2 linked regions of the Homo sapiens genome follow. The protein of the gene in region 1 interacts with the protein of each later gene in a pairwise test. Each region holds a gene or a part of one and is shown on either strand. Other genes may lie near its edges.

Evidence for each region.
Region 2: the proteins of ENPP7 (region 1) and LRRC73 interact in binary tests that used the Homo sapiens proteins (3 or more experiments, as listed by UniProt).

What each region holds. Positions count from the first base shown.
Region 1 is NC_000017.11:79,729,222-79,733,816, reverse strand, and holds the start of ENPP7 (ectonucleotide pyrophosphatase/phosphodiesterase family member 7 precursor), read right to left. Parts: upstream 2,875-4,595; 5' UTR 2,771-2,874; coding exon of another isoform or gene 2,678-2,770; coding exon 2,425-2,677; intron 310-2,424; coding exon 164-309; intron 1-163. UniProt on the Homo sapiens protein: Choline-specific phosphodiesterase that hydrolyzes sphingomyelin releasing the ceramide and phosphocholine and therefore is involved in sphingomyelin digestion, ceramide formation, and fatty acid (FA) absorption in the gastrointestinal tract.
Region 2 is NC_000006.12:43,507,474-43,511,944, forward strand, and holds the start of LRRC73 (leucine-rich repeat-containing protein 73), read right to left. Parts: upstream 2,874-4,471; 5' UTR 2,313-2,873; coding exon 2,041-2,312; intron 1,448-2,040; coding exon 1,287-1,447; intron 948-1,286; coding exon 825-947; intron 454-824; coding exon 353-453; intron 206-352; coding exon 1-205.

The sequences.
Region 1 (4,595 bases):
TTTGGGGCCCTACTTCACACCCTTCTGTGCCAGGGTAGGCCAGGAGCCCCGAGACCCTGGAGTGGGGAAGGGACCTGCCGTGGATCTCACATGGTTCCAAGCCTCACCTGGGCCTAGGTGCCCCCGTGCTCTGCGATGTCAGTATGGGCGGGGGTGACATTACCTGCCTCTGGGCTGTGATCCAGATGGGCACGCTGCCGTTGTCCCACCACCTCTGGATGCCCAGCGTGGCGTGGTAGGGCAGCTTCACCTTGCTGGTGGTGTTGTAGTACATGTTGTGAACCACCCCGTGGTTCTCGATATATTTGCCTGAGGGAGGAAGAGGTGCAGAGGGCGGCGGGATGGACCGGGGTCACAGCGAAGGCCGGACCCAGGGCTGGAAGAGGCGAAGTCAAAACAGCCCAGGTTTCCCTGTGTGCTGGGTGGGGAGTGGGCCTGGGGCAGGGCTGGGGGGAGCAGACTTCCTCCTGCACTGCCCCGTGGGAGCCAAGGTTCGAGGTCATGTCTGAGACAAATAGACACGTGTTCTTTGACCTGTTTTAGCAATCGCACTTCCACTTTCAGTTTGTCCCACAGCTGGACGGGCACACAGGCACGAATGCGTGTGCAGGGATCCTGGTGGCAGCCTTGTTTGCTTTAGCAAAAGATTGCGGGTGACCTCCACGGCCGTCAGGAAGGAACTCATTAAATAAATGATGGCCCAGCCATCAGACGAGATCCCAGGCAGGAATTTCAGTGAACTACGTGGAGCTCCAGGAGATTTTTTGAATTTATTTTTGTACAGGAAACACGTGCACATGGTACTAAGTCCAAAAGGTGCAAAAGGAGAGATGATGTGGAGAAGGTCCCTCCCGTCCTCATCTGCGATACAGAGAGCAAAAGAGGCGCTGCGCAGACGGGAGACCCGCACACCTCCGTTTGCGGTTAGAAGGGGCAGAAAGGCTGGTGTGGGGATGAGCTGCCTGTGTTGGGGTGGATGGTGTCCCACCACATTCATGCTCACTTGGAACCTTAGAACGTGGCCTTATTTAGAAATAGGGTCTTTGCAGATGTGATTAGCTAGGGTAAGGGGATGTATACCAGAGAAGTGTGGACCCGAAATTCAGCGACTGGTGTACTAGTGAGAAGAGGAAAGTTTGAATACAGACACACACACACAGGGGAAAGGCCCTGGGGAGACGTGGGGAGAGGTCGGAGTGATGCTGCCGCCAGCCCAGGAATGCCAAGGATTGCCGAGGCCCCAGGAGCCAGAAGAGGTGAGGAGGGAGCCTCTGCTGGAACCTTCCGGGTGGGTGCAGCCCTGCAATGCCCTGGGTTTGGCCTTCTGGCCTCCAGAAGCATGCGGATCCGTTTCTGTGGGTTTAAGCCAGTCTGCAGATCTTTGTTGCAGGCGCCCTGGGACACCCACGCAGGGTCTTTGGAGGATGACGCAGGTTTGGGAGGTGGCTGAGCCCCTAGGGAGGGCCAATTGCTTTTCAATTCTCTAACACCTTTTTTGTGGTACTTGGCTTTTTATTATTTTATTATTGTTTGTTTTTTTGACACAGGGTCTTGCTCTGTCACCCAGGCTGGAGTGCAGTGGTGTGATTGCAGCTCACTGCAGCCTCTACCTCCTGGACTCCAGCAATCCTCCTGCCTTGGCCTCATATATATATATATGTGTGTGTATATATATATATATATACATATATATATGTATATATATATGTATATATATATTATATGCAGTCTTGCTTTGTCACCCAGGCTGGAGTGCAGTGGTGCGATCTCAGCTCACTGCAACTTCCACCTCCTGGGTTCATGCAATTCTCCTGTCTCAGCCTCCCAAGTAGCTGGGATTACAAGCATGCACCATCATGCCTGGCTAATGTTTGTATTTTTAGTAGAGATGGGGTTTCGCCATGTTGGCCAGGCAGGTCTCGAACTCCTGACCTCCAGTGATCCGCCCGCCTCAGCCTCTCAAAGTGCTGGGATTACAGGCGTGGGCCACTGAGCCTGGCCCCATATTTGGCTTTTTAAAAACCTATGTCTGTATTGTCTACAGCCTGGGCAGATCTGTCAGGGAGGTGTTGGGTGGAAAATGGAAAGGATGGAAGGGAGAGGGAGAGGCTGACACAGCCAGCTGGAGGGGCGGGCAGGGGAGGGGAGCCATGGGAGCCAGCGGGGAGCCCGCCACACTCCCCTCCTCCTGAAGCCTTCTGGGGTTGCTGCCCTGGCTGTGGCCACGGGTTTAAGGACCCCCCTGGTCATTTTTCTTTGTCCCGGATCTGTTGCTACCAACGGTGAGGATTCCTAATGGTCCCCTTGGCTCTGTCCTGTGCCTGGAGCAAGGACCTCTCCCCTTTATCCTGCACGACACGGCTCTGTGCCATCTGGTTTCTCAGGCCCTCCCACCCCCAGGCCCCGTCACAGGGCAGTACTCACCGGTGACCAGGGTGAAGTGGCAGGGGCTGGTCATGGTGACAAAGGCGGGGGTCATGTAGCGTGCCTTCACCCCGTCTCGGGCCATGGCGTCCAGGTTGGGGGTGTCCACGTCCTGGTCGTAGTTCCAGCGGAAGCCGTCGAAGGACACCAGGAGCAGCTTGTTCTGGGAGCCCTGACTTTGTACCGGTGCTCCGGCCCCGGGAGCCAGGAGCGTGGCCAGAGCCACAGTGAGGAGGACGGCCGGGCCTCTCATGCTGGGCCTTCCAGATGGACAGGCACACAGGGTGCACAGGGCTGGCTCCTGCCGAGGAGGACAAAGTCCCAGGGTCACCCGGGCTGATCTCATCCCGTGCGCCTTTGGAATGTGGCTGTGCACATCCCCGGGTCGAACCTCGGGAGTGGGCTCCCCAGCCGTGTCAGTGCCACCCCTGGTCCCAGCCTCACGTGCGTGGGGTGGCATCAACTTGAGCATCTGCCTTTATTGCCAGCCGCGCCCTTGGTGCTCCAGGCTCCTCCCCTCCCTCCCCAGAGTGGGGACAGTGACCCAGGGCTCAGAGCACAGCAGGAGCCCATTCCACTGGGAAAGTCGTGCCCTCTCCCTCTCCCATAGCAACAGGTGGTCCCTCTGTCCCAGCTCACCCTGACCCCAGGGGACCCAGGTGAGGCTGGGGTGGGACCCCCTCTCCAGGCCTTTAGTGGTGCATGGGCCTCAGGCCTGCCTGGGTGAGGGCCTGTGGGGTGGGCTTCCCATGGTCAGGGCCAGGACCAAGCCTGGGTCACAGCATGGCCTTGTCCGGGGGGAACCCCAGGCTGGGTGCCTGTTCTCCTCCTGGTCCTGTTAAGGGGCTCCTTGAGCGTGGTGAGCAGACCGGGAACCGGATGGCTCCAGACCAGCGTCCTGTGGGCCTTCCTTCTTGGGATGCTTCCTTCTTGGGATGCTTCCTTCTTGGGAATTTCAGAGGGTGCCTGGGGCTCGGACGTTCTTGCTTGATGACAACAAGGGGTCAGAAGAGGGGGACTCCCTTGTTACCATAGGCACATGAAGGGTGGGAGAGGAACCCCTGGATTCAGTGTGCGGTTCTCCCTCCCTCTCCCCCATCTCTCCTTCCCCTTCTCTTATTTTCTCTCTCTTTCTCTGTCTCTCTCCCTCTTTCCTTCCCTGTATGTCTCTGTCTCAGTTCCTATTAAGCACGTTCTGTGTGCCAGGCATGGTTCTAGGTTCTGGGGACACAGAAGTGAATGAGACAGACAATGTTCCTCGTGGCCTCCATTCGAGTTGGGGACACAGAAGATAAAATGAACAAACAAGAAAAAAAGAGTTTCCCAAAAGAAGGGAAGGCAGGAAGACGTGATGGAGAGGCTGGCGGGGTGGGTGGGCGGCACGCAGTGGTGGCTGGTGGGGTTTCGCTGAGAGGATGGTGGAGGCCAGTGACTCTGGGGGACCATGAGCTAGGGGAGCGGGCATGGGGCAGGTGGCAGGGGTGGCAGGGCCAGTCCCGTAGGGCAGGTGGCGGTGATTCTCATGCCAGGCAGTGGAAGCCAGGCGGGGGTTTTAAGCAAGAGAGTGACATGAACTGATCTAATGCTAAAATATACTCTCCATTTGTGGGTGAAGGATAGACCAGAACGAGGGCAGAATGGACACTGGGTGCTCCCTGGAGAGGTGACTGCCTGTGTCTGAGCAAGAGCTATTGGTGGCCCGGACCAGGGTGGTGGCTGTGGGATGGGGCTGGGTTTGAGGCGGATCCTGGAGGTTTTGCTGGGAGGTGGTGCGCTGGATTGCATGGTGGGAGGTGGTGCACTGGATTGCGCGGTGGGAAGACGGAAGGGCATGGTTGGAGGTATTGTCACAATTTCAATCTGGAGCCACACACCTGCCGACAGTGGCCCCGGCCTTCCTTAAGACCTTTGGCTGGCTGCAGCAAGCAGACGCCGTCTCGAAGCGATGGCCGTGGCACTCAGATGACACCGCAGACGCCGTCCACAGCCTCCCCAGGCCAGCCAGCCTTTCCTAACCCAGGTGGGCAGGGACCACTGGTACGGATCCCCGGCTGCCCCTGCCTGGCCGACTGGAACACACTCTCAAGGAGGACTCCGTGCCAGTGACCCCTCTTCTTCATGCTTCTGTGCACCAAAAGCTGAAAACCAGGATGGAGCGACTGCCCGGTGCC
Region 2 (4,471 bases), on another chromosome or scaffold:
AGCTGCTGCCTCTCTGGTGGGCAGCAGGCTCCCGCCCTCTCTCCCATTCCTGGGTGTCGCCAGCCCCTCCTGCCACTTCCTCCTCCTCCTCTCCCTCAGAGAGGAGGTCACAGATCTGTTGCTGCAGCTCTGGGCTAATGCTGTTCTCAGCCAACACCAGGCTCCGCAAAGCTGTGGGGTAATTTTCTACCATGTCCAGCAGGGTCTGAAGTGGGGAAGAATATGGAAAAGGATGAACACAGTTAAGGCAGGTCCTCAGACCTCAACCTGCCATGCCTTAGGTATGTCATCAGACACATAAACTAACCTCCACCCCATCCCCTGGCCGTGCCCAAACATGACGACTTCCCACCTGAGCTGACTGGTTGGTGAGCCCTGTGCCCTCCAAGTCTAGGACCTCTAGGGTACGACTAGAGGCCACAGCTACAGCCAGCATTCCTGCCACATGGTCACCTGGGGAGACAACACACGTGCACACATTCATACACATGCCTGCTAATCCTTACAGATAGCTTCCCCATTGCCTTAACAACTTTAGATACTAATCCCTGGCCAAGGAAACATGGACAATTGGTGGTGGTCAGGAAGGGATCATTGTGATTGGTGAGTGAAGGCACGAAGCAAGTTAGGCCCACGGGTGGTGACTGATGTTTTGATCTATTTGTTGGTCACCTGGTCCGCCACAAAGCTATCTCCTTGACCCCTGGGGGCTCCCGTTTCTCTTCCCTCTCCCAGTGTACGGGTTACCATGTCAACTGATGGTCCCAGGCTCTTGGATAGGGCATGAGGCAGTGACAGCCCAAGGGGGTATTCTTGAGCCTCACCCAGGGGGTTGTAATCCAGATTGAGGACGCGGACCTGGGAGCTGTGGGCCACGGCAATGGCAAGGCGGCTCCAGCCCTTAGGGGTGATGCCAGGGTTGGCACTCAGCGTTAGCTCCTTCAAGCCTGGGCAGCATCATAGCAAGAAACCAGAATAGGGAGGGTTAAGCCCTCCTCCAGCCCTTCCCCACAATCCCTGTGTCTCTGGGGTGTCCCTAGTGGCTGGGCACCACCTTACCCCCACCATAGAGGTCAAGAGCCATTAAGGAGGCCCATGCTTCCTCTGCCTGCCCCAGCCTGGATTCCTGAGTCTCCATGCTGCCCCCCGTCCTGCCCCTTCCTGAGAGGAGTAGAAAGATGTTCTCGCCCACATCATCAGAGCTCTGGGGCCACACCCCCTTCCCTCTGCATTTCGATTTTCATCACTGCCACACTAGCCCAAGCCCTCAACAGGGTCCTGCTCACCAGATTTGGCCCCATCTGGGGGCAGGAGGCCACAGATGAGGTTGATGGCTTCATCACCCAGCATGCAGTCCCCCAGGTCCAGAGCCACGAGGGCAGGGTGGAGGGCCAGGGCTGGGTTCAGCAAGGCCAGCCCCGCATCTGTCAGGGGGCTCCCATGCAGGCTGGAGGAGAGTGAGAGAGCAGGGTTACTGCAGTCCTCCGCACTATCTACATGGGAAAGGGGCACTTTCACTTCTGTCAGCCCTAGGTATGGGGAGGGCAGTCACAGCGCTTGAGAGGCCTGGAAAAGGAGAAGGAAAGTTCTAGATTCTCAGGGAATACAGATAGAGGGAGAATTCGGTTTGTTTTCTGGGGCAGGGATCCAGGACATTGCACAGGGAGGGGCAGAGAAGGGGTGGGTGGGTGGTGGACCGGAACTCTGCAGTGGGCAGGGCTCTCGTCCCCACGGGGATATTCCCCCTTGGGAACCAAGGAGCTGCCCCAGTGAAGTAAATGCAGATGATTAGGTGGGGAGGTACGGCCCCCACCTCATGTCAGGAACTGGTGGGTATCCCAACACGGCTAGGGTCGCGCGTGCAAAGTCCAAGCATGTGCTTGGAGGGTGCTGTGAAGGCATGGGCCGAGGCACGGTGTATGTGCATAAGGCATGTGAAGGTAGGATGGTACTGGAAGGAGTGTGGAGGAACAGGAGGTGCCAGGGGAGTGTATGGAAGGGTGCAGTGCCCGGGACCCCCTTGCGAGGGGGCGCACTCACAAGAGGGACTGGATGGAGCGGTTGGTCCGCAGAGCCTCAGCCAGCTGCTTGATGCGGCTGGGGCTGGACACGACGCCCAGGTTAAGGTTGAGCTGCGCCAGGGACGTGGCCCCGGCCAGGGCCCGGCAGATGCGGCCAAAGTCGCGGTCGCAGAGGCGGCAGCCGCGCAGTGAGAGCAGGCGCACGGCGTTGTCGCGAAGGCCGCGGCAGATGTCCCGCACCTCGGCGCCGGACAGCGGCTCCCCCGAAATCTGGATGGAGCTGGGCAGCATCGTGCCCACGGCTGGGCCTCCGGGTACGGGGCCGGAACGGAGGTTGGTGGGGCCGCGGGCGGGGCCGGGGATAGGGCCGGGGTCGGGGCCCCGGCAGGGGTCGCGGGCGGAGTGGGGCCGGGGGTGGAGGCGGCGGCTGTGGCGGAGGCTGCGGCTGCGGCGGAGGCTGCGGCGGGGGCGGAGAAGAGCTACCGGGACTGAGCCGGAGCCGGCCAGAGGTGCGGAGGCGTCCAGGGCGCGGGCCGGGCTGAAGTGGGGCGGCGCTGGGGCGGGGGCGGCCCGCACGGTCCGTGTCTGGGCGTTGGGGCGGGTGCGCGTTCCGGGGGTTGGGCAGGCGCTGCTCGGCGCTTGTCCTTGTCCCTCGCGGTCGCGGCGGCGGCGGCGGCAGCGGCAGCGAGCGGCTCAAGGGCTTCGGCTTACCGGTCTCGGCTAGGAGGCCGTACCCGCTCCCTCCTTCTCTGCCGCCCGGCTCCCCCCGACCACCCCGCGGGCCTGGCCGCACGGCTGGCAGAGAGAGCCTGAGGCGGGCGGCTGGCGGCAGCTCCGGCTCCAGCTCCAGAGAGCGAGCGGGCGGCGAGTTCCCATGGCAACGGCCGCGTCACCGGCGCTCGCCCCGCCCCCTGCCCGGCCAAGGCCACGCCGGCCCGCGAGGTTCGCGTACACTGGGTGGTTCGGGGCAAGGAGCTGGGAGCGATAGGCCGCTCTTCCCTTGGGAGTGGGGTCAGCCAACTGGCAGGCGGCAGGCGGCAGGGCTGAGTGGGTAGGGCTGACGGGGAGCGGAATGGAGGCACGCCCCGTGGAGATGGCGTTGGGCACGGTTACTGCTGCTTCTGCCCATTCTTCCATCCTTCCCCGTTCCTAAGGTCCATACCCCCGCCGGAATCCAGGGCACTGTTCCCTCCTATTTGGAAGGCCCCAGGGCCCTTTCATCCGCGCCGCGCCTCGCTCCCGCCCCCGTGACTCGAGGCGCAGCGTGCGTGGTGATCCCGGCCCATGGGGACTTCCCCGCTTGCTCCTCGCCAAGATGGCGGCCTCATCAGGGAGGCCCCAGGGGCCACGGCTGGGCAGAGCCAGCTTGAGCTGCTGGGGAGAAGGGTACCCCATAGGGTCCCTAGGGCAGGGGAGCCTCAGATAGATGCAAGGTCCTGGTGCCACACCTTCTCAGGTACGCAGGGCACTGTTGACATCTGAGGGTGTGTCCGTGCCGCGAGACTGGGGCAGCCAATACAAAGAAGGTGCCAGGGCCAGGGCCCTGGAGCACTGGTGAGGACGTGAAGGCGGCTGAGCCACACTGCACGGTGCAGGCGGTGCTGTCTCAACTTTGTCCTCTGGCCAGGGTGGTGGGGGACTCACTTGTGTAACGCAGGACAAATGAAGGGCACCTCTGTTTGTCCCTTTGTTAGGAGGGATAGATGCTGCTGACCCAGATTTACTAGTGTTAAGATGATTATTTTACATAAAATATAATATTCAATATAGTGAAGGGAGGTCAAAGGCCCTATTCCCACTCTTAGCCACCTGAATTAACTTATTAAGTGGAGCATATTAAAGAGGTGGTGGGGGTGGATGGTGCTATGTTAGGAGTGGTGGTTGGTTTTAAGAGGAAAGACAGAAAAACTAAAAGGAGCTGGCCCCAGTACCACCAAGGCAAAGCCAAATTTGGCTTCAATTAAGAGCTCCACAGGAAAATTATCAACACAATGCCCAGGTGCAGAAGATCCTTGTTTTGACACGGGGTTTAAGTCGGGATGTTTTGTTCAATTGTCACTGCTTCCTTGGCTTCCCAAGAGAGCAGCTGAGCCCAGACTCAAGCTGGCTGCAGTGTTCCATCAGGCTTATGGCTTTTGTGCTTGAGGCCTCCCTGCCGCTTCATGGGTCAGGTGTGATATTCAATCACTGCCTTCTATGTAGTCTGGCCTGTCCCACCTTTATCTTGCCTGGGTGAGGATATGAAGAAGGGAACATATGACATTACCACTGTTGACTGAGTAGGAAAGTATATAGGAAGCGGGATGACAGGGAGGACCACTGGATCAGCCGCTGCAGTTCCAGACTTCAATCAACATTTTAATTACCAAGTCTATATTTAGCAAGACAATGTGGGAGAGATAAAGAGGAAGGAAGGGGTAGGTGGGGAGGGGTTCTCAAAGGAGCTGACC